4 separate regions of the Homo sapiens genome follow, and all the other regions are linked to region 4. Evidence: fine-mapped expression QTL. A gene starts in region 4. Each other region holds a variant in brackets. All regions are shown on one strand. Distances are from middle to middle. Region 1 overlaps LIMD1 (LIM domain containing 1). Region 2 has its middle 34 kb from the start of LIMD1. Region 3 overlaps LIMD1 (LIM domain containing 1). Region 4 holds the start of LIMD1 (LIM domain containing 1).

Evidence for each region. PIP is the estimated chance that this variant, and not a neighbour inherited with it, causes the effect. A credible set is the group of variants that fine-mapping cannot tell apart.
Region 1: its variant is the best candidate, but not a certain one, in a credible set for the expression of LIMD1 in whole blood (INTERVAL, PIP 0.65).
Region 2: its variant is the best candidate, but not a certain one, in a credible set for the expression of LIMD1 in tibial nerve (GTEx, PIP 0.60).
Region 3: its variant is the best candidate, but not a certain one, in a credible set for the expression of LIMD1 in whole blood (TOPMed, PIP 0.62).

Annotation. Positions count from the first base shown.
Region 1 is chr3:45,646,313-45,653,787 of GRCh38, reverse strand. All of the region lies in intron 2 of LIMD1 (LIM domain containing 1), which reads right to left. Among named protein-coding and RNA genes, the nearest start is that of LIMD1-AS1, 39 kb to the left of the region's middle. RefSeq lists an enhancer at 6,194-6,695. The variant C/AC (reference allele first, on the strand shown) is at 3,940.
Region 2 is chr3:45,556,730-45,564,204 of GRCh38, reverse strand. No RefSeq gene overlaps it. Among named protein-coding and RNA genes, the nearest start is that of LIMD1, 34 kb to the left of the region's middle. The variant C/T (reference allele first, on the strand shown) is at 3,472.
Region 3 is chr3:45,638,043-45,645,517 of GRCh38, reverse strand. All of the region lies in intron 2 of LIMD1 (LIM domain containing 1), which reads right to left. Among named protein-coding and RNA genes, the nearest start is that of LIMD1, 47 kb to the right of the region's middle. RefSeq lists an enhancer at 6,167-6,461. The variant C/G (reference allele first, on the strand shown) is at 3,841.
Region 4 is chr3:45,591,285-45,598,759 of GRCh38, reverse strand. It overlaps LIMD1 (LIM domain containing 1), which reads right to left and starts at 4,009. Exons shown (of 8, transcript NM_014240.3): 1 at 2,473-4,009. The coding sequence starts at 3,880. RefSeq lists enhancers at 1,138-1,637, 4,133-4,302 and silencers at 4,393-4,522, 4,533-5,002.

The DNA.
Region 1 (7,475 bases), 55 kb before region 4:
CAGGCATGCACCATCACTCCCAGGTAATTTTTGTATTTTTAGTAGAGATGGGGTTTCACCATGTTGGCCAGGTTGGTCTTGAATTCCTGACCTCAGGTGATCTGGCTACCTCAGCCTCCCAAAGTGCTAGGATTAGAGGCATAGGCCACAACACCCAGCCCCAGAATAGGTTAACTCTTAAAAGATATTGCTAAAAACAAATCAATTTGGTTTGGCTCAAGTGAAGGAGAGATCCAGCCTCGATTTTGCAGGCTTGCCAAGCCTCAGTAAGCCAAGGAGCACAGCAGAAAGGGGCAAAGTGGAAAAGCACTCAGGCTTGGGGTCCAACCTTGCCTTTGCCCCTTCCCTGAAATGAGACCCTGGCTGTCACCCAAACCCTTCAGGTTCCCTGGTAAGGATAAAAGTGGGATCACAGTAGGGAACGCAGCCCAGTGCACCTCATACCAGGCATCTGGTGTGACTGTTGCCAGCATCCCTACCTGACCTTCCGTTTCCTCAAATGACACCCACCAGAGCTAAGAATCATAACCACCACCCTCTCTCCCTCCTCATCCAAATCCCCTACATCACTCCTTCCTTCTCAGTTTATCTGTGGCAAAGGGCTAGGTATGGGAGGCTTTTGTTTTTAATTTCCATCTGTCAGACTTATTATCTTGTAAAATACAATAATATAGAAAAATGAAACATAAAATCCAAGCCCCAACTGTAGTTATTATCCAATTCAACTGACACAAAGCCACTCTGTCAAACTCTTAGGAAGGTCTCTAAACGTTCTCATCTCTTTCTCGGCCTTTGCTGGTGCTGGCCAAGGACCATGTTCTGAGCACTGCTGCCTCACGCTCCAATTCTCTTCTCACGTGCCACTCCAAAGTCTTTGTCTTATAGTTAGTTTTCCATTTCCCCTATTCCAGGCTATTATCGTCTGGATCAGAGATGAGAATACTGCACACAGAGACAACCCAGAGATGTGCAGAGGGTCTCCGTTAAGTGTTCAGCAGAGCATGGATCAGCTCTTGCCTGTGAGGAAACTAACCAAAGTCAGAGGACAAACATCTGCAGGATTCGCAAGAACAGTGCCTGGCACCCACAAAAGCTGGAAACAGTGCCTATTCCCACCAGCCCTGAGAATGAGGAATAATAGAGCCCTAGACTGAGCTCTGCTTTGAATTCATCTAATAAATCATAAAAGCAAGACTAGAAAGAATCACTGTTCCTAAATAATTTAACAGCATCCCAGAACAATGCTCAGAAGATTGAAAGAATACAAAATATCCAAGACTCAAAAAGGTAAAGTTTACAATGTCTGGCAGCCAATCAAATATTCCCAGGCATGCAAAGAGGCAGGAAAGCACAACCCACAGGGAAGAGAATAATCAATCTATGGAAATCAACCCCGATCAGACACAGATATTAGAATTAGCAGAGAAGGACATTAAAAGCTATTGTTTCTATATTCAATATGTTGGAAATGTTAAGTAGCAACATGGAAAATATTTAAAAGGCTCAAACTGAGCTGCTAGAGATGAAAACCAAAATGTCTGAGATAAACAATACATTGGCTGGCCGGGCATGGTGGCTCTCACCTGTAATGCCAGCACTTAGGGAGGCCAAGGAAGGCGTATCACTTGAGGACAGGAGTTTGAGATCAGCCTGGCCAACATAGTAAAACTCCACCTCTACTAAAAATACAAAAATTAGCCAGGCATGGTGGCTCATGCCTGTAATCCCAGCTACTTAGGAGGCTGACCCGTGAGAATCGCTGGAACCTGGGAGGCGGAGGTTGCAGTGAGCCGAGATCACACCATTGCACTCCAGCCTGGGCAGCAGAGCAAGACTCTGTCTCAAAATAAATAACAGGCCGGGTGCGGTGGCTCACGCCTATAATCCTAGCACTTTGGGAGGCCGAGGCAGGTGGATCACCTGAGGTCAGGAGTTTGAGACCAGCCTGGCCAACGTGGCAAAACCCTGTCTCTACTAAAAATACAAAAATTAGCCAGGCATGTGGTGCATGCCTGTAATCCCAGCTACTTGGAAGGCTGAGGAAGGAGAATCGCTTGAACCCGGGAGGTGGAGGTTGCACTGAGCTGAGATCATGCCACTACACTCCAGCCTGCACAATGGGGGCAAGACTCCATCTTAAAAAAAAAAATAACCATCTGATCTTTGACAAACTTGACAAAAACAAGCAATGGAGAAAGGATTCCCTACTTAATGGTGCTGGGAAAACTGGCTAGCCATATGTAGAAAGCTGAAACTGGATCCCTTCCTTCCACCTTACACAAAAATTAACTCAAGATGGATTAAGGACTTAAATGTAAGACCAAAAACCATAAAAACCCTAGAATAAAATCTAGGCAGTACCATTCAGGACACACGCACAGGCAAGGACTTCATAACTAAAACACCAAAAGCAATGGCAACAAAAGCCAAAATAGACAAATGGGATCTAATTAAACTAAAGAGCTTCTGCACAGCAAAAGAAACTACCATCAGAGTGAACAGGCAACCTACAGAATGGGAGAAAATTTCTACAATCTACCCATCTGATAAAGGGCTAATATCCAGAATCTACAAAGGACTTAAACAAATTTACAAGAAAACAACAACCCCATCAAAAAGTGTGCAAAGGATATGAACAGACACTTCTCAAAAGAAGACATTTATGCAGCCAACAGACATATGAAAAAATGCTCATCATCACTGGTCATCAGAGAAATGCAAATCAAAACCACAATGAGATACCATCTCATGTCAGTTAGAATGGCGATTATTAAAAAGTCAGGAAACAACAGACGCTGGAGAGGATGTGGGAAACAGGAACGCTTTTACACTGTTGGTGGGAGTGTAAATTAGTTCAACCATTGTGGAAGACAGCGTGGCAATTCCTCAAGGATGTACAACTAGAAATACCATTTGACCCAGCCATCCCATTACTGGGCATATACCCAAAGGATTATAAATCATGCTGCTATAAAGACACACGCACACGTTATGTTTATTGCGGCACTATTCAAAATAGCAAAGACTTGGAACCAACCCAAATATCCATCAATAATAGGCTGGATAAAGAAAATGTGGAACATATACACCACGGAATACTATGCAGCCATAAAAAGGATGAGTTCATGTCCTTTTTGGGGACATGGATGAAGCTGGAAACCATCATTCTCAGCAAACTATCACAAGGACAGAAAACCAAATACCGCATGTTCTCACTCATAAGTGGGAGTTGAACAATCAGAACACGTGGACACAGGGAGGGGACATCACACACTGGGGCCTGTTGGGGGGGGTGGGGGGCTGGGGGAGGGATAGCATTAGGAGAAATACCTAATGTAAATGATGAGTTTATGGGTACAGTAAGCCAACATGGCACATGTATACCTATGTAACAAAACTGCACATTGTGCACATGTACCCCAGAACTTAAAGTATAATTTAAAAAAAGATACATAAATAAATAACAAAAAGCTTTTTAAAAATTTTAGAAAAGAGAATACACTGGATGGGATTAATAGCAGATTACACCATGCAAGAGAAAACATTAGTGAATTTAAAGGTACAGCAATAGAAAATGTCCAAAATGAAATGAGAGGAAAAGAACTTTTTAAATAACGAAATGGGCATAAGTGAGCTCTGGGACAACTTCAAGATGCCTAAGATTGGAGTAATTGGAGTCCCTAGTGGATGGGGAGGAATGTGAAGAAATAGATTTGATGAAGACTGACTACAAACACACAGATCCAAGAAGCTCAACAAACCCCTAAGCACAAGAAACATGAAAAGCACACCAAGGATATCATAATCAAATTTCTCAAAATCAATGATGAAATCTTAAAAGCAGCCAGAATGGGGGAAAAACATGTCACATACAGAGAATAGAGATATCAGATTTCTCATTAAAAAAAAAAAGGGAGAAAATAGTAAAAAAAAAAAAAA[C/AC]AAAAAAACTTCAAGGAACTCAAAAAAGTATCAAGCTAGAATTCTATATCCAGCAATATATATATTTTATATATATAATTATATATATAAAATATATAATTATATATAAATATATCTATATAATTTTATATATATATATGTATACATATATATAATTTTTTTTTTTTTGAGACAGAGTCTCACTCTGTTGCCCAGGCTGGAGTGCAGTGGTGCAATCTCGGCTCACTGCAAGCTCTGCCTCCTGCGTTCACGCCATTCTGCTGCCTCAGCCTCGCCAGTAGCTGGGACTACAGGCACCCGCCACCATGCCCGGCTAATTTTTTGTATTTTTAGTAGAGACGGGGTTTCACCATGTTAGTCAGGATGGTCTCGATCTTCTGACCTCATGATTGGCCCGCCTCGGCCTCCCAAAGTGCTGGGATTACAGGCGTGAGCCACCGCGCCCAGCCAAAAAAATATATTTTAAAATAAAAAAATGAAAGAAAGATAAATTCAGAATACAAAAGTTTAAAGAATTCATCACCAAATCAGCATACGAAAAAGAAAAAATGTTAAGAGAAGTCCTTCAAGCAGAAGGAAAAATGGTACCAGATGAAAACCTGAATCTAAACAAAGGGATGAGAAGGAGCAGAAATGGCAAATGCGAGGACAAGTGAGACTTTTTTCTTATTAGTTAAATCTCTTTAAAACATTTAGAAGAAAACATGGACATGAATCTTTGTGACCTTGGGTCAGCCAATGTTTTCCTACAAAAAGCACCAAAACACTGGCAAAAAAAGAAAAAAAGTAGATAAATTCTACTGCATCAAAATTTAAAGCCTTTGTGCTGTAAACAATACCATCAAGAAATGAAATGACAGTCCACAGAATGAAAGAAAATATTCCCAAATCCTATACAAAGAACGATTAAGACTCAATAATAAAAAGACAATCCAAGTAAAAATGAGCAGGGAATTGAGAAGACATTTTTCCAAATAAGACATACCAATGGCCAATAAATGTATGAAAAGATGCTCAACATCATTAATCATCAGGAAAATGCAAATCAAAACCCACAATGAGATCCAACTTCACACCAAATAGGATAGTTAGAATAAAAAAACTAGATAAGCCTAAGCGTTGGCAAGGATGTGGAAATACTGGAACTCTCATACATGGCTGGTGGGAATGTAACATGGTAGAGCTTCTTTAAAAAACAGGTCCTCAAAAGGTTAAACACAGTTACCATATGACCCAGCAATTTCACTCCTAATATTTACCCAAGAGAACAGAAATGATACATTCACATAAACACCTGCCTAGGAATGTTCATAGCAACATTATTTATAATAGCCAAAAATAAAAACAAGTGTCTATCAACTGCTGAATGGATAAACAAAATATGGTACATCTATACAAGGGAATACTATTCAGCCATAAAAAGAAATGAGATACTGATTCATACTACAACGTGGATGAACCTGGAATGCACGCTAAGTGAAAAAAGCCAGACACAGAAGATCATATATTGTATGATTTCATTCATATGAAATATCCAGAATAGGCAAATCTATAGGGATAGGAAGATCAGTGGTTGCTTAGGGATGAGGGAAGGTGAGTAAGGAGGTGAAGTGATGAGTACCAGGTAATGGGGAAGTGTCACCTTTATTTATTCCAACATTTATTCTGTGTTCAGAATTATACTAAAGGTGCTGAAGGGTTATAAGGAGTAAAATCATGATCAGTTAAACCCTGTCCCTATTTTTCCCAAAACTGATCACCTAGGGGGAGATAGAGATTCCTGCAAACAGTTTCAATCTAATCATAATTGAAAACACCATAGGACAGGCAAATGAAGGGTGCACATGGGACCCAAGATCAGGAGAGTAGCAATGGAGATGGCAATGGAAGACACTGAAGGGAGAGTGATATTCACCTGGGTGGTGATGGAGGCTAAGGGTGACAAGGTACAGGGGTAGAAAAGGACAGGTGATGTGCAGTGTGGCCAGGGACTTCAGCACTTCGGGAGGCTGTGGGGCAGCGGAGGAGGGGGATAGTTAGAAAGAAAGAAGACAGGAAGGAAGTTAGAACTAATTTAAGGAAATGTCTTAAACACCAGGCAAAAGAACTGGACTACAATGTTAAGGCAAAAAGTAGCTGAAGGTCTCTGAGCTGTGGAGTGGCCTCCTCGCTGCTGTGCCCAGAGACCAGACTGGAGGTGACAGCAGTGATCCATGCAAGAGACAGAGACGCTCTGCCCAAAACAGGGCATATGGGACCCTGCTGGCATCCAAATGCCACCAATGGTGACCATTGCAGGGCTGCTGCGGATGTGGAGAGGCAGCTGTCACCCTGCCCCTGAACACAGGGAAGGGCCTGCATCCTCTGGCCAGGCATTGGATTTGCCGGACCCCCAGGCTGACCCGTGCCCTGCTATGCATCTGGTCCTTGAAAACCTGGCCACAGGATCCACACTCAGCCAGCCTCAGTACTCCTGGGAAGAGTCTGGGAGCTCCCATGGTAAGAGTTCACTTCCCCTTTAAACTTTAACTGGCAAGAAGGTTATGTTGGCTTTGAGTCATCAAATCAACAGGATCTTACGCAGCAGATGGTTATGAAGACTATGAAGCAATGAGGGAAAAGGCATATGATATATTTCTAAGTGGAAAAAGCAGGGCATAAAAGCAAACATACACTGTGATGACAACCAGGCAAAAACGTCTATGTAGGCACAGCATACATTTTTGGGGGTTCTTTTTGGTATTGAATTATAGGTGATTTTCTTCTCCCATATACATTTTTTGACAATGTGACTACATTGACTTGGTGATGTATAAAATATCAAAAACAAGAAACTTCATGAATAATTTCCTACTAATAAGTGAACTCTGGCTAAGATTTAGAGGCCGGGCATTGTGGCTTGCACTTGTAATTCCAGCACTTTGGGAGGCCAAGGCGGGAGGATCACTTGAACCCAGGAGTTTGAGACCAATCTGGGCAACATAGTGGGACTCCAACTCTACAAAAATTAATTTCAAAAAAATTAGCCAGGGGACTAAAGGGACTGAGGTGGGAGGATCACTTTAGCCCATGAGGCAGAGGTTGCAGTGAGCCATAATGCAGCACTGCACTCCAGCCTGAATGGCAGAGTGAGACTGTCTCAAAAAAAAAAAAAAAAGATTTAGGAACAAGAGGCTTTACATGCAGTCCAATACAGTAGCCACAAGCTGTACATGGCTACTAAAATAAATTTAAACTTTAATTAATTAAAATGAAATAAAATGGAAAATGCAGTTCCATAGTCACACTAGCCACATTTCAAGTGCTCAAGAGCCCCAGGTGGCCAGTAGCTGCTGTGTTAGATGGTGCAGGTCTACAGGTCAGAGAGAGGCCAGAGGACTGAAGTCCACATGAAGGTCAAGTGGGCTGGTGGTGAGGCCCACTGCAGGGCCACAGCCAAGTTCCCAGCTAACTTCATCACAATCCCCCAGGATGCTCCCCCTGCACACACAGATCTCAGAAATCAGGATCTCTGCAGGCAGAGGCAGAGGTCGGCA
Region 2 (7,475 bases), 35 kb after region 4:
TCTATCTCTGGCATACACTGAAAAAATGATAAGACATGTGAAAGACAATGTAATCCTTCATCAGACAAAAAGAAATTATCAACAAAAGCAGACCCACAGATAACCCAGATGCTGGGATTAGCTAACAAGGATTTAAGATAACTATTTAAATATGTTAAAGAATTTATGTAAAAAGATAGGCAAACATAGGAAAATATGAAGTATTTGACAGAGAAATAAAACTTTAAAAAAAGGAAATGTTTGAATTAAAATATACAGTATAAATGAAGAATTCATTTATAAATTTAATAATAGAGTCCACACAGAAGAAGAAAGAATTAGAGAATTCAAAACACATGCCAGTAAATATACAATTATCCTGTGACCTAGGAATTGCATTCTTGGGCAGTGTTTTAGTCCATTTTCTATTGCTTGTAACAGAATACCTGAAACTGGGTAATTTATTAAGAAAGGGAATTTATTTTTTACAGTTATGTAGCCTGAGAAGTCCAAGGTCAAGAGGCTGCATCTGGTGACAGCCTTCTTGCTGGTGGGAACTCTGGTGTCCTGAGGGGGTGCAGGGCATCATGTGGTGAGGGGCTGAGCATGCTAACTTGCCATCTTAAGTCTCTTTTCTTCTTTTTATAAGGTCACCAATTCCCCTCCCATGATAACTCATCAATCCACTAATTTATTAATCCATTAATCCATTAATGGTGTAATCCAATCACCTTTTTTTTTTTTTTTTTTTTTTGAGACAGAGTCTTGCTCTGTCACCCAGGCTTGAGTGCAGTGGTGCGATCTAAGCTCACTGCAACCTCTGCTTCCTGGGTTCATGCGATTCTCCTGCCTCAGCCTCCCAAGTAGCTGAGATTACAGGCACATGCCAACACACCTGGCTAATTTTTGTATTTTTAGTAGAGATGGGGTTTCGCCATTTTGGCCAGGCTGTTCTTGAACTCCTGACCTCAGGTGATCCACCCGCCTCAGCCTCCCAAAGTGTTGGGATTACAGGCGTGAGCCACAGCGCCCGGCCTTCCAATCACCTCTTAAAGGCCCCACTTCTCAATACTGCCATTGGGGATTAAGTTTCAATAAGAGTTTTAGAGGAGACATTCAAACCACAGCATTTACCCAGAGAAATGAGAAGTTATATTTACACAAAAACCTGTACATGAATGTTCATAGCAGCTGTATTGATAATAGCCAAAACTTGAAATAACCAAGATGTCCTTTGATGGGTGAATAGTTAAACAAACAATGATATATTCATACCATAGAATTCAACTCAATGATAAAAAAAAGAACTATTTATAAATGCAACAACTTGGATGAATCTCAAGGGAATTCTGCTGAGTATAAAAAGGCAATCTGAGAGGCCACATGCTATATAATACCATTTATGTTAACATTCTTGAATATCCAAATTATAGAGATGAAGAACAGATTAGTGGTTGCCAGAGGTTTGTGATGAGGTAGGGGTGTAGTAGGAAGATGGGGGTGGTTATAAAAGGGTAACTTGAGGAAACATTGTAGCGATGAAATTGCTCTGAATCTGAACTGTGATGGTGCATACATGAACATACATCTGTGATTGAACTGCAAAGACTAAATACATGTGTGCACGTGCACACACACACAAACACATACAATCAATACAAGTAGAACTAGGAACATCTGAACAAGATTGATGGATTTTATCAAGGACAGTATCCTGGTTGTGATATACTGTAATTCTGCAAGATGTTATCACTGGGGGAAACTAGGTAAAGGGTCCAAAGGATATCTATTAATAATTTCTCACAACTGTATGATTTCTTTTTAAAATTAAAAAAAAGTACAGAACAGGCTGTCAGAGGACTGTGAGACAATATCAAATGATCAAATGTAAATTTAAGTGATACACCAGAAAAAGAAGAGAGGTGAAATTGGGGAAGAAATATTTGAAGATGTAATGGCTGACAATTTTCCAAAATTGATGAAAGATATCAACCCACAGATTCCTAATCTTAAAAACCCCAAGAGGGATAAATACAAAGAAAAAAACTACAACTAGGCATATCCTAGTCAAACTATAGATAAAATCTTTAGAGTTAAAAGAGAAAATCTTATAAGTAGCCAAAGGAAAGAAAACATTATCTTTAATACAACAACAAAAAGAATGATGGTTAATTTTCATCTGAAACAATGAAATCCAGGAGTCAATGGAATGACATCTAAAATGTTGAAAAAAAAAAGTACCATGCTAGAAGGCTATATCCAGTATGGTATAGGGAAAGAAAGGTTTCTCAAGCCAACGCTATGAGAACTTACTGCCAGCAGAACCACTATAAGAAACACTAAAGAAAATGCTTTAAGCTAAAGGGAATTTATCTCAGATTGAAGCCCAGAACTACAGGAAGAAGAAAGAACTCCAGAAATGGTAACTATTGAGGTAAATATAAAAGTATTTTTTCTTTTTAAAATTTCTTTAAAGACTTGACTGTCTGAAGCAAAAATAATATGCATTTATGTGGGATTTATAAAATATGTAGAAAAAGTATATGCCCATACCTTCAAAGGACAGGGAAGGGAAACTGTTGCAAGAATGGGTCAATTTTTTTTTTTTTTTTTTTTTTTGAGATGGAGTCTCACTCTGTCGCCCAGGCTAGAGTGCAGTGGTGTGATCTCGTCTCACTGCAAGTTCCGCCTCCCGGGTTCATGCCATTCTCCTGCCTCAGCCTCCCGAGTAGCTGGGACTACAGGCACCTGCCACCACGCCTGGCTAATTTTTGTATTTTTAGTAGAGACGGGGTTTCACTGTGTCAGCCAGGATGATCTCGATTTCCTGATCTCGTGATCTGCCCACCTCGGCCTCCCAAAGTGCTGGGATTACAGGTGTGAGCCATCGCGCCCGGACAAGAATGGTTCAATTTTTACCTTGTTTGTAAAGTGGTATAATATTAACTCAAGGAAGATTATTATAAGGTTGTATGTTGTAATATCTAAAATAATAACTAAAAATACCTCCGAGGAGTACAATAAATATATTATCTGTTCAATATTCACACCTGGGTAAGATGGGCATTGCTACTTGATTTACAGAGAAAGAAACTGAGGCTTGGCTAAAGCTTTGCCCTAGGTCACCAGATAGGGATATAGGTACACTAGAACTCAACCCAAGTTTTTAGACCCCCAAGCCCAGTGACTCTTGTGTCATTGACAGATTTTCCCTGTACAGGGGTAGATAATAAATATTTTAGACTTTGTAGGACATAAAGTCTCTGTCGCAACTACTCAACTCTGTTCAAAAACAGCCACAGATGATATGTAAACAATTAAGCATGGCAGTGTTCCAGTACAACTTCATTTACAAAAACAGATGCTAGGCCAGCTTTGGCCCACAGGCCATCATCCGCCAATCTCTCCATTATTCCACTGCCCAGTGGTTTTCAGTTCTGGCCCAGAGAGGGCCATTCTGATCCATAGCCAAGGTCCAGAACCACCAACACA[C/T]CCAGTGGCTTCTATCTAGTTTAAACACTTGGTTGTCCTCCCCACTCCTCTCCCCTTCCTGGTTCCCATGAGCTCTGGCCTCAGCATTTTGGTGAATAGAAATGTTCAGTCCTTCTGTACTCTCACCTCAGGGGAAATATCCCCGCGAAGGCCAGGGATTGCTGGGCCCCGTTACTGAAACACGTTGTACTTCCTCAGCTTTCCAATTTTCCAGTCTTAAAATAGACCCACAGTACTTCCTCTGGCAGCTCCCTCACTCCCTCCTCGCAGCTGTCTTTGCTTCCCCGTCCGGCTTCTTCACTTTTGGGGTCAGCCCAGCTCTTGGCCACCAAGACTTGAAAACACACGCAAACTATTTTGCAATGGGCTACTGTGTTCAGACGATGCCCCACGGCTGATCCTCAACAATCAGTGATTCTGTGGCAGCCAGAGAGACCAGAGCCAAAGTCTTAACTGAAGGGCCAAGCAGGAAACCCTCCAATTGTTACCCTTTTGTTCCCCATGAGGAGAAATCTCCAGGCATCATTTAGGGCTGCTCTGCAGTTTTCAACTTACAGAATGTCCCCAAACTATTTTCAGCACTGTTTCCTCTCAGAACTCCCACCCTACCCACCAGCTGGCACCCCCGGGTCAACTTTGGAATTAAAGAAATCAAAATCCCATTTCTGTTGCACTAACTTGAGGTCACAGAGCCGGCGTAGGGTCAGAATCAGAACTAAAGTTTTTCCTGCACCGCCAGCTTCACCCAAAAGTCTGTAACCACTTCCCCCGCCCCAACAACATTCATCTGGGCCAATCTGAAGGTCAGGCTTTTAGCCCATCCTGACCAGCTGCTTAGGACTCCTAAGGTCAGAGGCACTGCAGGGAAAATTCCACTTAGGGCCTGAGGAACAAATCCACTGATCACCTCCATCGCATGTTTGTAAAAATGAGAAAAGCTGCCTGTACTGGGCAGTCAGTCCCACGGGCACATAGCCTGGGCGGCACGTGGCTTGGGCAGCAGGGCAACCACCAACTTCAGCCCCACTGGGTCTCTTGTCTGGGTGCCTCTGTGCAGTGCACAATCTATACAACCACACCAGGGGCCTTGCTGACGAAGTGGTTTAGGGATTCTAAACTCTGCCCACCCTCCCAGAAAAAAAAAAGTGCAGGTACCTTTATGGCTGGTATATAGGAATACACCACTACCCAAACCCAGTGGTTGACAGGACATTACTGTGCTCCCCTACTGTACATTGTGTTAGATTCTAGAGACTCTCCATCATCAAGGTGCTGCTCAGCCCTCAAGGAAGTAGCCAGCCTAGCAGGGAAAACAGACACCAAGACGATTTCAGTACAATGCTATCTTAGGAGTCTAACTCAAGGTATTAAGTAGACTTCAATGGACAATTATCCACATTTCATTAAATCAAAGATCTCACTGATTTTAAGGTGCATGTACCACACATACACACACACAACAAAAAAATGCTGACATTAAACTATGGCACGGTGTTCTCTTATTACTTAGATTTTTAATTCTATACTTATTGAACTACATACTTCAGACTTATTTAGATTATTATTTTTAAATTTAGATTATTATTATTTTTAGACAAAGTCTCACTCTGTCACCCAGGTTGGAGTGCAGTGGCGCAATCTCCACTCACTGCAACCTCTGCCTCCCAGGTTCCAGAGATTCTCATGCTTCGAAGAGCCTCCTCCCAAGTAGCTGGGATTATAGGTACGTGCCACCATGCCTGGCTAATGTTTGTATTTTTAATAGAGACGGGGTTTCGCCCTGTTGGCCAGGCTGGTCTCAAACTCCTGACCTCAAAGTGATCTGCCCATCTCTGCCTCCCAAAGTGCTGGGATTACAGGCATGAGCCACTGTGCCCGGGCATTATTTAGATAAATTTTACCATATATCACTATGATACATATATAAAAAGGAAAATACAAGTAAAATAAGTTAGTTAAGGCATGGCTGAAATTTGTTCATTCAGAACTCTTCTGAATCACTGTTTTACAAGAGTTGTGATGTCCACATCTTCTATGCTCTGATCCTTCCCATCGTCACGAGCACTGAGGATGTGGCATTTCCTAACAAGCTGCTCCACTCTTGTCTCTGGGATTTTCTTCCAAGTTACCAGTGGTCATGTGCAAGATTTGCAGCAATGACATCACAACTGTTCCCTTTAAGAACACATCTTGACTTCAGAGATGCTAAACTGGAGAACTGTGCACTGGTGAGACAGGTTATCCAGCTGTGGGGAGGGCAGGTTGGTTCTGCAGGCTCCCTGGCAACAATTGAGAAGCCAGCTGTAGAGTCTTAAACCTCCCTGTGCATAGCGATTGCAACAAGATGCTGAGAAACTGTATTCAAACTCCTCCAAAAATGGTGGTTTGTCTCTCATGAGGTGAGCAGGTTCCCTGAAAGAGGGACTGGGGAGGCAGCTGAGCATCCCTGGGCTAGAAGACCTCTGAGGGCCTCTGCAGCCCGAGTCCCATGTCCTTGTGATGGTTACAACAAAGAGATATAGAGCTGTGGCCTTTCTTCTCCTGCCTTCTCACCACCTTCTGCACATGGGCAGAGAGGTAGCCATCAGGGAAGCAAATGGGCACTTGCCTCCCAGAGGCCTCTCCATGGGCCATGCAGGGCGAAACACACGCTGCTGACTCACTTCAGCCATCATAACCCAAAGGCTGGCCCCAGGGACATGCCTCCTTGGAATGGACACATTCTCAGTCTGCCCTACCTTGAGATCCTGTCTTAGGAGATTAACTCAAGGTATTAAGTATCTTAGGAGTTTAACTCAATTTCCTCGGGAGGATACAAAGCAGGTTCACGCGTGGTGGCTCAAGGGCACACAGTGACCCCTTCCCAGCCAGGCCCCCTCAGCTGTAGGCTCTGGACCCCTGAATGAGCCTGCCCTCCTGGCTGTCCCCACAAGGCAGCACCCTCTACCCTAGTAATGTGCTGATGTTCCAGTCCTGGTCTTTCCCTCTCCAGCATGCTGCCAGGGCCTGTCCACTGGCAACACTGCTCCATCTGCCCCTTCTCTCTCATTCCACAGCTCTGCCCTCACCCAGAGCCCCAGCCATTCCCTGTCTGCTCGGGGGCTGGCCCCAGATGAGCTCCTCACCACCTTGCTCTGGGCACTGGCTGGGCGCAGTGGCTCACGCCTGTAATCCCAACACTTTGGGAGGCTGAGGTGGGCGGACGACCTGAGGTCAGGAGTTCGAAACCAGCCTGGAGCCTGGCCAACATGGCGAAACCCCATCTCTACTGAAAATACAAAAACTTAGCCGGGGGTGGTAGCAGGCACCTATAATCCCAGCTACTTGGGAGGCTGAGGCAGGAGAATCGCTTGAACCCGGGAGGTGGAGGTTGCAGTGAGCCAAGATCATACCATTGCACTCCAGCCTGGGTGACAAGAGGGAGACTCTGTTTTTGTTTTTGTTTTTTTTTTAAAAAAGGTTCTGACCTTGCCTCTCTGTAACCTAAACCCTTTCAGTGATTGTTCAAGGCACACAAGGAGCTAGCCAGGGAGAGCGGGGAAGGGTGTTCTGGGAGAGACCAGCCCCTGCGAAGGCCCGGAGGGGAGATGGAGTGCTGGTCCCTGACACCTGCTTGGGCCTCCTGTGTCTGGAGTGGAGAATGTGTGGTGGTCCAGGGCCTGGAGAACAGGTTCATGAGATGGGCAGGGGCCACATTGTTCATGAGGGTTTTGTGAGCCATACTGGAGATGGGCATTCTAGGGAAGGCCCTAGAGGGACCATTTTCCAGAATGAGTGTAGCTCTTCTCAGACTGTAATGTGCATTTGGGAATCATCCAATGATCTCAGTAAAATGCAGTTTCTGATTCAACAGGTCTGGGGTGGGGTCCAAGAATAAGCATTTCTAACAAGCACCCAAGGTGATGCCCATGGTGCCGGCCTGGGATCCCCCTGAGTATCTAGGGGCTGCAGTGAGTTGTCTGACTCCCATAATACACTAGCCAGGTGCACAGGGGTTCATTCAT
Region 3 (7,475 bases), 47 kb before region 4:
CTTGGTCTGGGACTACCACGGAGGAAAGGTACAGACTTCCAACAAAAACCAGACATGTGCAATATCAGGAGCTTAGGATGCAGACATGGCCACATAAGGTATAGGTTACACCAAAGTTAGCCTCTACAATATACTGCGAAACCTCTCAGACTGTGTTCAGACGATAGGAACAAAGGAATCTGATGGTCTTCCCTGTCAGGGACTTCCTGGCCTCTGACTGAACCAGCAGAGTCTGACCTGGGAAACCAGGTTTGGCCCCAACTCCAGTGCACTAGCAGAACTAGGCTTGCAGGAGACGGACACAAGAGACCCTTTGATAACCAAAGTAAGTGGCCCCTCCACTCTCTTCCGATCCCTGCAGCCCTCTGGCCAGCTCCAGCCTATTTTGGTTGCTTCCTGATCTTTCCTGTGCCCACTGATTTCCTTTAGCATCTGCCCACTCTTCCTTTCTCACATTCTTGATCTTCAGCTTTTTCCTTAGGTCCTGCTGACTCATTCAGCTCATACAGAACTGCTGAATATGATGAGAAATATTCGGACAATTCGACAGCTCAGAAACTCAGGGATTAAAGCCCTTAGTCCATTTCTCTACTATGGGTGCATCCCATGATTGAATTCTACCTCCCCTATTCCCAGCCCCAGGCCACTCTCCTGCACTCACAACTCGAGGGTGGCCAAAAATCCAGTCTCTGTTGTCACACAACCCCAAGGCAGCGGCTGAACCTGAAAAGTCAAGGCAAGGCCCCATGGCTACAGCCCGGCTCCTGTCTTTGGCAAATACTCTCTCTAAGCAAAGGTAATTTAATACAGTGGCTAACAGCAAGAGCTGTGGATCCACAGGTCTTGGGTTCAAGTGCTGACCACACCACTTAACAGTGACGAAACCAACCACAAACTAAACTCTCCAAGCCTCAATCTGTACATCTTAAGTTGAGAGTAATAATAATAATGAACGTTGAACTCCCTGAATTGTTACAGGATTTAGTGCGCCGCCATGGGTGGAGGAGGGTTATGCGGTGTCAGGCCCACGGTAAGCTAGAAAGCTTACCCAAAATTATCTATAAATATCGCAGTGACTGTTTTACAGAAGCAGACCTGCATGAATTAAAGGAAGACCTCCCTAGTTCAGGCTTAACTCATTCAAAATGTGTAAGCATTTTCAGGGGCTGGGTTGACGAGGTCATTTACAAAGTCAACAAAAAAGGGAAAGGATTTCAGATGCAGTATTTAGACTTTGTAAGAAAAACAAAATAGCTGGCAAGAACCCTCCAGTCCTTCAGAGGCGAACTAACTGGTGAGTCAATCACCAAGGACTTATTCATTCGCTAAGAACCTCTGTTCCACAACACTAGGCTTGGTCCTAATTGTTTTATTTATCTCAAGTAACAAAATGGCATTTTGTGAGTGTTCTAGATGCAGGCTTTTTATTACTAAGAAAGGCTTTCTTCCAACTGGGTCTCAACAAGTGAGATTTTACTATAAATCCCATTCGCAGTCTTCAACAGCCATGGACATTCGGTTTTTGGAAGGTGAAATGAGCAATGGTATATAATCTTAGTTTTGCTTTTTTCTCCCCACTAAGGCATGGCTGGCAGGTCACAGTGCATCTTACACCGAGCAATACAAACAGTAGGTTACACCACTGCAATTCATTCTGGCCTTGACTTACACATTCCAGCACCATCCCAAGTGGACCCCGTCTGGCCCTCTGCAGCCTTCCACTGAGCTCGGACCTGCACTAGGCGTAATTTCTGTCAACTGTGGGACTGGCTGCTTCCCAGCTTCCATCCCCAAGGTGGGCACCCCCCTGCTCCATGGGCTTCTGGCGGGGAGAGTATATTTACCTAGTCCATCATTTTCCGTCTCATATCACCGAAAAACTAATAGGAATCATGACACTAACATGGCAAGTAGGATGGAATTTGTTTAGTCTGTGAAATGAACGTCTTAGTTTTTAAACCTCAATCTGCCTGGAGTGAGCACACAGGACCTTGCCTACTTCTCCCTCACAGACCATTCTTTTTTTTTTTTTTGAGACAGAGTCTCACCCTGTCGCCCAGGATGGAGTACAGTGGCGCAATCTTGGCTCACTGAAAACTCCGCCTCCTGGGTTCAAGTGATTCTCCTGCCTCAGCCCCCCAAATAGCTAGTATTATAGGCATGTGCCACCACATGCGGTTAATTTTTGTATTTTTAGTAGAGATGGGGTTTTGCCACATTGCCCAGGCTGGTCTCAAACTCGTGACCTCAAGTGATCTACCCGCCTCAACCTCCCAAAGTGCTGGGATTACAGATTGAGCCACCACGCCTGGCCTCCCAGACTATTCTTGAAGGTGCCGAGAAGTCCACTCAACCCCACAAGTCAGCGTGTTTTTCCTCCTCTCATGCTGCTGCTTCTGAGGCACAGGTGGGAGCCAGCCTCCCTCAGACAGGCCACTTGACATGTAAGTAGACACAGCTGTCAACAAAGGCCACTCCTGTCCTCTCCACAGACCTCCCTCCCACTCCAGGGTGTGCCAACAGCTTCCTGAGAGTGTCCAGTGCCAGTGGGGGGGCATGGCCGCCTGGGGTGGGCAGAGCCTGAGGGGAGAGGAGGGAGACCCACAGCACTCATCTCCACGGCAACCAAACATTCCCAGCCCAAGGAGCACAGCAAAGAAGAAGGGAACTTGAACAAACCACACAAACGCCCACACCACAACCTGATGCTTACTGCTGGAACGAGCACCAAGGAAACAATCCCACAGAAGGAAAGAAAGATGCTGCACGAAGATGCTGGCTGGGGCTGTGTGTAACAACCTGCAAACCAGCCATTAACTGTGGCACAACTCATCCATCACCATGTAACTTAAAATTATTATTATGAACTATGACATGATGTTAAATTGAAAAGGATACAACATTGTTTATATACTATGATCGCAACTCTAAAAAATGTGTATAAACTTGGGGAAAACCTGGCAGGGAAAACATAAAAGTGACAGTAGCTGAGCTACAATGCTAACATAACAGGTTTCTGTCTTTAAAATTGTCTTTGCAGCAGCCAGATGTGGTGGCTCATGCCTATAATCCTAGCACTTTGGGACGCCAAGGCAGACAGACTGCTTGAGCCCAGGAGTTTGAGACCAGCCTGGGCAACATAGCAAGACCCTGTCTCTACAAAAAATAATAAAAAATAGCTGAACATGGTGGTGCATGTCTGTAATCCCAGCTACTCAGGAGGCTGAGGCAGGAGGATCGCCTGAGCCCAGGAGTTCAAGGCTGCAGTGAGCTGTGATCCCACCATTGCACTCCAGCTTGTACGACAGAGCAAGACCCAGTCTCAAAAAGAAAAAAAAAAAAAAGATACAATTTTCTCACAGCTTTCCCCATTGCTGCTTCTCATCAGCAGATGGGGAAATGTTCATATCCGTGTAAGGGAACCTGCCATGGTGCCTGGGAGAACTGCACATAGCCATGTATGCAAAGGTTTGCCTGAATCTTGGTGGAACACCTTGTAGGCTTCCAGAACATAAAAAGATGCACGGCTGTCTCTCATTCACCTCCCTATTCCCCCAGGAGCCTGTCACCAGACAGTGTCTCATCTCTAATGAGGTATGGGAATTTCTGCCTGCCTCTCAGAACAGAGCTGTGGGCTCTGAGACCACTTAGCTGCAGTCTAAAATTGCTTCTCAAAATCCCACTTATGTGGCAGTCATCAGCCCCTTTTGCTTCAGTGTCATCCTCTTCAGTGTATGGGACAAGGACCCAGGAAGATGGTACCTTTGACACATTCTTTGTGTTGCCTGCCTATGTAAGTAATAAACTGCCTAAAGTAACAGTGGCTTGTTGTATCTTTAC[C/G]AAACTAGTCAGGCCCTGGACTTGCCCTGTAAATGTGTGTGAGCTTAACAGTATCCAAATACCATGGTTTAATGCAGTATCAATGGACCTCAGGAAGTATGTGTATATACCAACAGATACCTCCATATGCCATATGCTATATATATATAAAAAATATAAATAAAATAAAATATATATAATTATATATAAAATCTGGCTTTACATACTATATATAGTGTTTTAAACTAGATTTTCATAATTGAAATGGGAAAATAGAAAAGATACATATACAAGTATGTTCAGAAATACACACACTCACCAGACTCTATCAATAACCAAGATAAGATAAAGAACAGAGAAAACACACTTATTTTTGCTTGACTAGGTGGAAATAAATCAGAGGAGGGAGAACCAGAAAAACAAGGAAGTACAGGTGAGCATAGATTCAAGAGGTCTGGATTCCATGCCAGCTCCATAGCCAGGTTTTTGACCTTGAGAAATTCTTCCCCTGTCTGCCCCCATTTTCTCTTCTAAGAAGGAGGGGATGCCCTAGATGCACCCAGACCCCCAGCTGTGCCGTCTCCATGGTGTTGAGGCTCACAGAGACACACTCAGGACCTGCAGAGCTGAGACACAGAGCTCCCGGGTGCCTCCTTCTGCTGAAAACTGAGGTAAAGGGCAGCAATCTGGTAACTGAAAAAAGACAAGTCACCTCCAGTGTCTAAGAGAAGCCGCTGAGACACAAGCCCAGTCTCCAACATTCCAACTGCTCTTTGGAACTGGACAGGAAGTGGGACATTCACAGAGCAGGAGGGTGTGCAGCCCCAGGGCAAACAGCAATGCCCCTGCACTCACTTTTTGACAAAATCCGAATCCTCATTCCTTCAGCAACTCTGTTCTAGGGCCTGGTTTGCTGGCAATAGATCCACAGAGAATGAGGTTCACCATCTATGTAATAACACCAACAAGGGTTGGGAGTGGTGGCTCACGCTTGTAATTTCAGCACTTTGGAAGGCCAAGGCAGGCAGATCACCTGAGGTCAGGAGTTCAAGACCAGCCTGGCCAACATGGTGAAACCCTGTCTCTACGAAAAATACAAAAATTAGCCGGGCCTGGTGGTACATGCCTGTAGTTCCAGCTACTTAGGAGGCTGAGAGGCAGGAGAATCGCTTGAACCCGGGAGGCAGAGGTTGCAGTGGGCTGAGATCATGCCACTGCACTCCAGCCTGGGCAACAGAGTGAGATCCGTCTTAAAAACAAAACAAAACAACAACAACAACAAAAAACAACAAGAAAGCAGAGTGCACCAAATTCAGGAGAAGTCTCTTCCTGCTAAGGAAACAGGGAAGGCTTCCTGGAAGAGGAGGCATTTGAGCTGAGTCATAAGACTGGACAGAGAAATGTATTAAGTGAATGGGGAGAGGCTATTCTAGATAACAATGTGATCAGAGGCATGGAAGTGAAAAAGAGAAATTCAGTTTGACTGGAATAGGAAACAGGAAGTGATAAGACAGGGACAAGACCACAAAGGCCTTCAATGCTAGACCAATCAAAAACCCAAACCAGGTCTGTCTTCCTTAAGTGTCTGTGCTTGTCACAATTTGAAGAAAGAGAAACTCAATCCATTAAGAAATAGACAGCCACTCTAGCAGCCTTGGGTGGAACCCACAGACTCATCTGCAATGGGCTGAATGTCTATGTCCCCCTAAAATTCCTATGTTAAAATCCTAACCTCTGGCCGGGCATGGTGGCTCACGCCTGTAATCCCAGCATTTTGGGAAGCTGAGGCGGGTAGATCACCTGAGGTCAGGACTTCGAGACCAGCCTGACCAACATGAAGAAACCCTGTCTCTACTAAAAATACAAAAATTAGCCAGGTTTGGTGGCGCATGGCTGTAATCCCAGCTACTTGGGAGGCTGAGGCAGGAGAATCGCTTGAACCCAGGAGGCGGAGGTTGCGGTAAGCCGAGACTGCGCCACTGCACTCCAGCCTGGGCAATAAGAGCAAAACTCCATCTCAAAAAAAGAAAAAAAATCCTAACCTCCAAGGTGACGGGATTAGGGGGTAGGGCCTTTGGGAGGTGATTCTCATGAGGTGGAACGCTCAGGAATGGGATTAGTGCCCTTATAAAGGAGATCCCAGAGAGCTCCCCTTCTACCATATGAGTGCCCGGGAAGTGGGCCCTCAACAGACACCTCATCTGCCAGCACCTTGATCTTGGACTTTCCAGCATCTAGAACTGTGAGAAATACATTTCTATTGTTTATAAGCCAACCAGTGTATGGTACTTTGTTATAACAGTCCAAACAGACTAAGACGCTCATCAATTGGTTTTCCCTCACCAACAGCTTCCCTAATTCAAATGGTAACTGCTTGAGGTGGAAAACAGCCTCTCCTTAATATTTATTTTCTTTTTCCTGAAAAATAGAGCAAGTATTGAGAAACTGTTGTAGGAGTCAAAGGTCAAAGATAAATTGTAAACAAAGATCTGATACAAGCAGCCAACAAACATGAAAAAAATGCTCAAGGGTCAGGTGTGGTGGCTTATGCCAGTAATCCCAGCCCTGTGGGAGGCTGAGGTGGGAGGGTCACCAGAAGTCAGGAGCTCAAGACCAGCCTAGGCAACACAGCGAGACCTCTGTCTCTACAAAAATTTTAAACCATTAGCTGGGCATGGTGGCACATGCCCGCAGTCCCAGCTACTCAGAAGCTAAGGCAGAAGGGTTGCTTGAGTTCAAGGCTGCAGTGAGCTACAATTACATCATGGCACTCCAGCCTGGATGACACAGTGAGACCCCATCTCAAAACAAAACAAACCTCCACATCATTATCATCAAAGAAATGCAAATCAAAACCACAAAATGGCCATTATTAAAAAGTCAAAAAGTAGATGTTGGCAAGGCTATAGAGAAAAGGCAATGCTTATACACAGTTGGTGGGAGTGTAAATTAGTTCAGCCACTGTGGAAAACAGTTAGGAGATTTCTCAAAGAACTAAAAATAGAGCTACCATTTGACCCAGTAATCCCATTACTGGATATATATGCAAAGAAAAGTACATCTTCTACCAAAGATACCTGCACTCGTATGTTTATCACCACACTATTCACAATAGCAAAGACATGGAATCAACCTAGGTGCCCATCAGCAGTAACTGAATAAAGAAAATGTGGTACATATACACCATGGAATACTACACAGCCATAAAAAAGTGACATCATGTCCTTTGCAGCAACATAGAAACACAAGAAACAGAAAACCAAATAGCTGAAAAACTTTCTACTGGGTACTATGTTCACTGTGTGGGTGACAGGACCAATAGAAGCTCAAACTTCAGATTCACACAATATACCTTTGTAACAAACCTGCACGTCTTGAATCTAAAACTAAAATTAAAATTTAACTAACTAAATAAATAAATAAAGGGGGGCCTAAACACAACTCCCATATGGATAAAACACAAACATGTGCCAAAGACTTTATTTAACTCATCAATTAATAAAGGAACCAATTAATGGGTTTAATGGGGAGAATTCAAAGAACCATAGGCCATCAGGAATGTTGAAATCAATTTGCTAAATAGATTGCAAAACTGGTCAATCTCCACAGGGTAACAATCATCAACTGCACCTCACCAGACAGTCTGCATTGCTATA
Region 4 (7,475 bases):
TCTTCTAGGTGGGACATTCCCTGATCACCCAATTTAAAACTGGAAATCTCTCTGCCACCCCCAGCCCCAGGGCTCCATTCCCTTTCTCTACCTTGATTCTCTCCCTAGTACTTGCTTATTTACTTCATTCACTCCCTGCCTCCTTCTACTACATTGTCTGCTCCAGGGAGGCAGAGGTTCCTGTCTGTCCTGTTCACTATGTATCCCCAAGACCTGGAATAGAGCATGGCCTCAAGATAGGTGCTCAATAAATTTTAATATATGCTGAATGGATGAGTAGCGTCAGCTAATACCGTTGCTCTGATGCACAGCATAAACTTGCATCTCAAGATAAAACTGCTGTTTGTGTTGTCCAATGAGCTTGAAATTTACAACTAAACAAAAGTTTAAATTAAAAGACCCACAGTATTTCCAGCTAACTATTACTCCCAAATGTGGGAATGTGCTGAGGAGAAAAGATAGTTCACAGTAAGATGGTGCCATGTGCTTTAAAAAATAAACCAGTAGGCCGGGCACAGTGGCTCACACCTGTAATCCCAGCACTTTGGGAGGCTGAGGCAGGAAGATCACTTGAGCCCAGAAGAACAGCCTGGGCAACCTAGAGAGGACCCCCCACCTCCACGTCCCCTTCCTCCCCTGCTTCCTCTTAAGTAGTCCTAGCTACTCAGGAGGCTGAGGTAGGAAGATGCCTTGAGTCCGGGAGGTCTAGGGTGCACTGCACTCCAGCCTGGGCAACAAGGCAAGACCTTGTCTCAAAATAAATAAATAAATAAACAAATAAATAAATAAAAATAAATTTAAAAAAAGTAAGCCATAAACAGCTACCCTGACCTCAGCCTGCTGAGTATGGGGTGAGAACTGGCTCCCACAAGGTTCTCATGAGAAGCAAAACACAATGCTACCATAAGCTGCACACATCCAGCAGCCCAGTGCCTCAGACCCTGGTCCCTCAAAGGACCTTGGGACACTTGCTCGTTCACGGAGAATAAGCGTAGACTGACAGCAGTAAGCCAGCTGTCTTCCTCTCCCAGGGCCTTCCCTGTCCCTGCCCTCCACTAGGCAGAGCTGCTACCCCAGCAGGACTCAGGCTATGGGGAACACGGGGGTCAATTATCCAAAGTTAAAAACTGAAAAAGAAAAACCCCTCCGATTCTCTGCGAATAGGCTGTCTTTCTAGTTAGCTCTCTTATGAGACAACTAATCATTACTCAACAGAAAGATACAACTACCACTAAACCTCGTGCAAAGAAAAAAAGTTGAAGCTAGCAGTCTCCAAGAGTTTGTGGTTTTAAAAAAGAGAATAAAACAAAACATGCAAGTTTGAGTAAAACCAGGAAGACACATTTTCCATCATAGTTTGTGCCACGGCTGTGGTGCAACCTGGCTGTTGGCTGTTACCTGGGTGTAGGCTGGGTTAGGAGGCACATGGTGCGGCAGGGCTCAAATCTCACCACACAGCAGGATCACGGCTGGCTGGGTCCCATCCCACAGTTTCTGATTCAGTAGGTCTTGGGTGGGGCCCAAGAATTTCCATTTCTAATCAGTTTCCAGGCAAAGGGATGCTGCTGATCCAGGGACTACACTTAAGAACCACTGCTCTGGCCAGGCGCGGTGGCTCACGCCTGTAATCCCAGCACTTTGGGAGGCCAAGGCGGGCGGATCACGAGGTCAGGAGATTGAGAACATCCTGGCTAGCGCAGTGAAACCCTGTCTCTACTTAAAAAAAAAAAATTAGCCAGGTGTGGTGGCACGTGCCTGTAGTCCCAGCTACTCAAGAGGCTGAGGCAGGAGAATTGCTTGAACCCGGGAGGCGGAGGTTGCAGTGAGCCGAGATTGTGCCACTGCACTCTAGCCTGGGCTACAGAACGAGACTCCATCTCAAAAAAAAAAAAAAAAGATCCACTGCTCTACAAGTCTTTCATGGTAGTGTTTGACCTGCCTCAACTGCACATAAGTACCCATCTACACACAGACACACACACAGACACACACACACGGCAGTCAAGAGCCCCTGCCTCAATCACTGGTCCCTCAAACAGCCAGATCAACCAGATCTGCCCAACCAACTACAGACTGAACGCTCAGGGGTAGCTGCCCCTGAGAAAGCTGGTCCCACTGAAGTCCTATATGAGCCTGTCACTGCAAGAGGCTCTAAAGTCACACCCAAAACCCTTGAAATCCAAAGTCACAGCATTTCTCTTTTCTGAGAGCAGTCATGAGCAATCCCACCCTGCTGCACCCTTCACACATGGGTAACCCCAGCTGCAAGGTCCGCTTTCTGCCCCAGGATGCTTTCAAGTTTCTGAATCAGAAAAAGCAGCTGAAAGAGGAAGCCCAAAACAAAAAAATAAAAAAACAGGCCACTCAAAGAGAGGTAACTACAGCCCACAGCATCCCTGGTAGGGGGCATGTTCCCCAATCTCAAGAACCCCATCGCCCCACCATAGGCAACTCCACCAGCCTCTCACTCACCAAAGTAATCAGCCTTCGGGTGAGCATCCATCTCTCGCTCCAGACGTTGGGTGAGGGCTTCTAATTTCAACTCAGCAGCAGAGGGTCTCAGCTCAGGACCTGGGACGAGGGGCTGGCAGGGCAGCCTTACCCTAGGGGAGCTGGGGCTGTCCAGGAGCACAGATCCCAGGCTACCATCAGAAGACCAGCCCAGGGGACCCTCTTTACAAGATAACTCAGGCAGGGTGGACATCACTGGATGGACAAGACTGGTGGGGCTGAGCTTGGGACCAGTGCCAAGGTCTGTGCAGCCAGGCTTCGGCCCCAGCCCAGGGACCGCACCCTGCTGTGAACCGTCCAGACCAGCTGGCGAGGATGACGGGGCAGAACTGGAAAGGTAAGATTTGGGCCCATCCTGGAACCAGGGTTGGGGGTCCACATTGGGTTTGGACATCACACCTGAAACCTCACCCCCCAGCCCCGAGTTTGATCTTGGAAGACCTCCTTGCCTGGGGCAGCTCAGGGCCAAGGGTGCTGACACAGAAGGGGTCCTGGGCTGAACAGGCCCCACAGCTGGTGCTCCGTTCTCCAAGTTTGGGGAAGGCAGGCCAGGGCTCACCCGCTGGGAGGAGGCAGTGGACCAAAGGCCTGTTGGCTTCTCGCTGCTGCGGCCACCAATGCCACTATTCTGACCACCGAGGCTACCCTCAGAAGACCTGCTGGAGCTCAGGGAGAGCTGTCGGTGATTTAGGGGATGGTCCCCGCAGGGTTTGGGCAGTGGTGGGTCACTCCCCGGGGAGCTAGGCCACCCACTCCCTACACTCAGGCCGATGCTGGGGGACACTCCTGGTTTGTCACCCCACTTTGGGCTTGCCAAGGAGAGGTTGTCATAATAGTCTCCATGAGTGAGGCAGGAAGGATCCTCACAGGGGCCTGGCTGGTGGAAAGCAGACATCTCAGAAGTCGCCAGGCTCTCCCTGGAACCACAGTCCTGGCTGCCATGCCTCGTGCCATGCAGGTATGGCCTGGATCTCTGCTCCTGCGGTGGGTACGGGGGCTGCCCAGCAGCGAGGGTGGTGACTGCCCCAGGTGCCCCTGTCGAGGCAGCAAGAGGAGGCTTGGCAGCACCATCCACAGTCAGCTTGCTGCCCACAACTTCCCAACGGGCCTGTGGGCCCAGGCGGCCCCCTCCATTGACAGGGCCTCTACTCCCCCTGGGCAGAGTCTCCTCCTGCAGGAGCTGCTGCTGCTGCTGCTGGAGGTGGATTTTGGCCATCTTGGTGGCGAACACCCTGCGAGTTTCCTCAAACTCGGGGTTGTTGCCTGCACCCTTGTCCACTCGGAAGAGCCCATCCTTAGAGGCCTCATACATGTTCAGGTCCTCGATGAATTTACTGGCCTCCAGGCCCAGGTCGTCATACTTATCCATGCTGCAGACAGGTGTCCGGGCCTAGCCCAGGTGCCGTGTGTGTGTGTGTGTGTGTGTGTGTGTGTGTGTGTGTGTGTGTGTGTGTGTGTGTGTGTGTGTGTTGAGGGCAGCGGGGAGATGCTGGCGAAGGGTCGGGGCTCAAGTCCGGCCCAGTACAAGTAAAGACTTCCACCTGCCTAGCGTGAAGGGCATGACCCCAGGATTTAAGAGTCCAGCCGAAGTTGAGACCTCAACGCCAGCTGGACCAAGTTTGCTTCCAACTCCCTTTCCCCTGGAGACGTCCTTGTTGGGGTAGCTGGTGGCACTTCGCCGTCCCGGGCCTGCTCAGCGGAGTTCTTTTCTCCTCTTCAAATTATAAAAGGAAAAAGAAAACAGCAAAAAAGTAAAATCACATCCTCCTTAGGCAACCAAACACGGAAACTCACAGCAAGGCAGCAGCCGACTGGGCCGGGTGAAGCTGAATCGGCCGGGAGGGCGCCGAGGCCGCGAGTCGGGCCGGAGCAAACGCGCGGCGGCTGAGGCGCAGGTACGTTCCAGGCGCTGGGTCCTCCGCTGCTTCCCCGGAGCTGCGATCCCGGCCGGCGCCTGGCAGGAACGCCGTCCGGGACGCACGGGCGGCCGAGCAGCGGCAGGAAGTTCACGGCAGCTGGGGCTGGCGGCCCATTGTCCGATGGCGGCGGCGGATCGGCGCGCGCGGGCCGGAGGGCGGCGGGACGCGGAAGTGAGTGCGCCAGGCGCAGTCCCTGCTGCTCGCTCGCCGGCTCTGCACGTCCCGAGCCCGCGCCGGGGCGGAGGGGGCGGCCGAGGGGCGGGGACGGCGCGCGGGCGGGCGCCCAGGGGCAGGCCTGCACCCGGCAGCGTGGCTGGGCCTCCTGCCCCCAGGCCTGGCTGGAGAACACCGAGGGGTGCCCCACAAGTCCGTCCCACGCTCTAGCACTGGGACTGCACGGGACTTCGCCGCCGCCACTGCCGCCCCCTGCGAGTCCTGGACCGAATTGGGTGCTCCGACCTCCCTTCCAGCCTCGGGTCCTCAGCCCGGCCCCGCCCCTGGCAGCGCTGGGCGGGGTCCTCCGCTCGGAGACGGGCGGCCTGGGTAGCCTGCATGGGCCCAACACAGGCGCTGGGAGTTTGCGAGGACTTTCGAGGACGCCGCTCCTCGCTCCACTGCCTCAGTTTCCCCGGTGGAAAGCCAGCCCTTTGTGCCTCTCGAGGCCGGCACCGTCCAGGCTGTGCCCGCCGCCCGGCTTGCCCGAGGTGCACTATTGGAGAGGCGCACGGGCGTGTCACCCATGGCTGGCCCACCGTCCTCTTTGACAGGTCGGGAGACTGAGGCAGAGAGGGGGAAATGCCCAACATGCCAACGTAACCAGCAAAGCGTAGATGGGAGCCCGGGCCCTCTGAAAGAGCGAAAAAGAAGAAAGTCTCGTTGTGCCTGCGCGCATTTCACGTCCTCAGTGCAGCAGTAAAAGCACGTGCCCTAGTAGGCTCGTTATTCGTAGAGGGACCCATCTGCAAGTGGATCCGCGCGGCTGCAGGGACACCAGGCCTGACTCCTTGGCGCCCCCGCATGGCCCGGGACTCCCTATACCAGTTCCCAGGCGATCCTGGAGAGGTTTCATTTCCCACACTACAGCCATCGTGATCCTAAGGCAAATACTAGAACAGACACTTCTCTACCTAAATCCTCAGTGCTTACCCCAGAATTAAATTGAAATCGGCCCCTTGCCGCAGCCTTCTGGGCCAGATCTAGGGATCTTCCCTCCCTCCCTGCACTCTAGCTGCAGGAGCTTCCTGGTGTCTGCCCAGAGCTTGCCCCTAAACTGAGTGGCTCATCTTTCCCATCCCTGCTGAAGTCACCTCCTCTTAGAGGCCTCCTCAGAGTGGTTCCTGTTGTTCTTTTTCAGCACCCTCTTTACTTCCTGCTCAGTTCTGATAACTATTTATAATTATTTATTTGTTGGTTAACATGCGTTTTTTTTTGTTTGGTTGGGTGGTAGGTTTCCCACTCCATTTGACCATATCTGTATGCCAAGTGCCTGGTATATATTAATAGTAGTACCTAATGGTCGAATAAGTGAATTAGTGAACCCCTATCTGCCAGAGTTGTGACAGAGAACAAATAAGATAATATATATGAATGTGCTTTATATTCTGTAAACCAGGGGTCCCCAACCCCTGGGCTACTGACCAGTACTGGTCTGTGGCCTGTTAGGAACTGAGTGGCACAGCAGGAGGTGAGAGGAGGCAAGCCAGCGAAACTTCATCTGTATTTACAGCCACTCCCCATTACTGGCATTACCGCCTGAGCTTCACATCCTGTCAGATCAGCAGTGGCATTAGATTCTCAGAGGGGTGCACAAACCTTATTATGAACTACCCTCATGAGGAATGTAGGTTGCACGCTCCTTATGAGAATCTAATGCCCGATGATCTGAGGTGGAACAGTTTCATCCCGTCTGTGAAAAAATTGGCTTCTGTGAAACTGGTGCCAAAAAGATTGAGGACCGCTGCCGTAAACCCAAAGTATGGTTAATGGACTCCATATCACCAGGGAGCTTGTTGAAAATGCAGAATCTTAGGCCCCATTGCCAACCTACTGAATCAGAATCTGCATTTTAACAAGATTTCTGGGCGGTTTATTTGCACAATAAAGTTACAGAAGCACTGCTATAAAGCACTATACTAAAATGAAGTATTTTTATTAAAAAATTTTTTTTGGTTTTTTATCTACAAGTAATACATGTTTCTATAACAACTTTGAACAATACAGACATATATAAAGTTTTAAAAGTTGCCTACCATCCCCTTTCTCAGAGGTAATCATAATTAAACACTCCTTAGGTGTTGGGTAATACTTATTAATTAAAAACTGGATTTTGGAGTGGAAGACTGGCTCACTTTGCCTGACCTCCAAATATGGCAGTTGTAGCTGACAAAGTGCTAGGAATATATGGCCATCCCTCTGCAAAGTCCAGTAAGCTCAGAGCCAGCTTCCTGGGTTTTCAGTTTGGACAGCTGGGACCCTGGTGCAGGAGCCACAGACACCAACCAGTGCTCTTACATTTGTCTTCTCTTTTCATCCTATCTTGGTGATGGCAGCAGTGGTCCATCTGGAGCAGCCACTGCCATGATGCTAGCTGCAATGGCGAGGTGAGGCCGTGACTGCATGCTCCATAGAGCTGGTAGGAGCTAGGAACAGGCAGGAGCCCCACTCCCTTCTGAGTTGGTGGGGCGGGAGCCCTGCCTTCCCAGGCACAGCTGCATCCACCCAGCTGTGGCTGCAGACCTGGGCATCCCTGTGCTCCCGGGGACCTAGAAAGCCCCCCTACTCCCACAGGCTCAGAAGTGCCTGCTCCTGTTGCCTGGCCTCTCCTGGTGCCCATTCTGATTTTGGAGCAAAGTTGAAGCTGAGCCCAGATACTGTCACGACCCAGCTGGGGGTGCACGCACTCAGGGCAGCACTGACACACCAGTCCCCTGCCGCCTCGGCCCCCTCCAGACTTTGGGTGCCGATGAGCATGGGAGGGAGGCCAGGGTGAGGCTGAGGGCAGTTCGGCATGTACCTGCAGGCACCCCTCAGCATGAACAGCCTGGG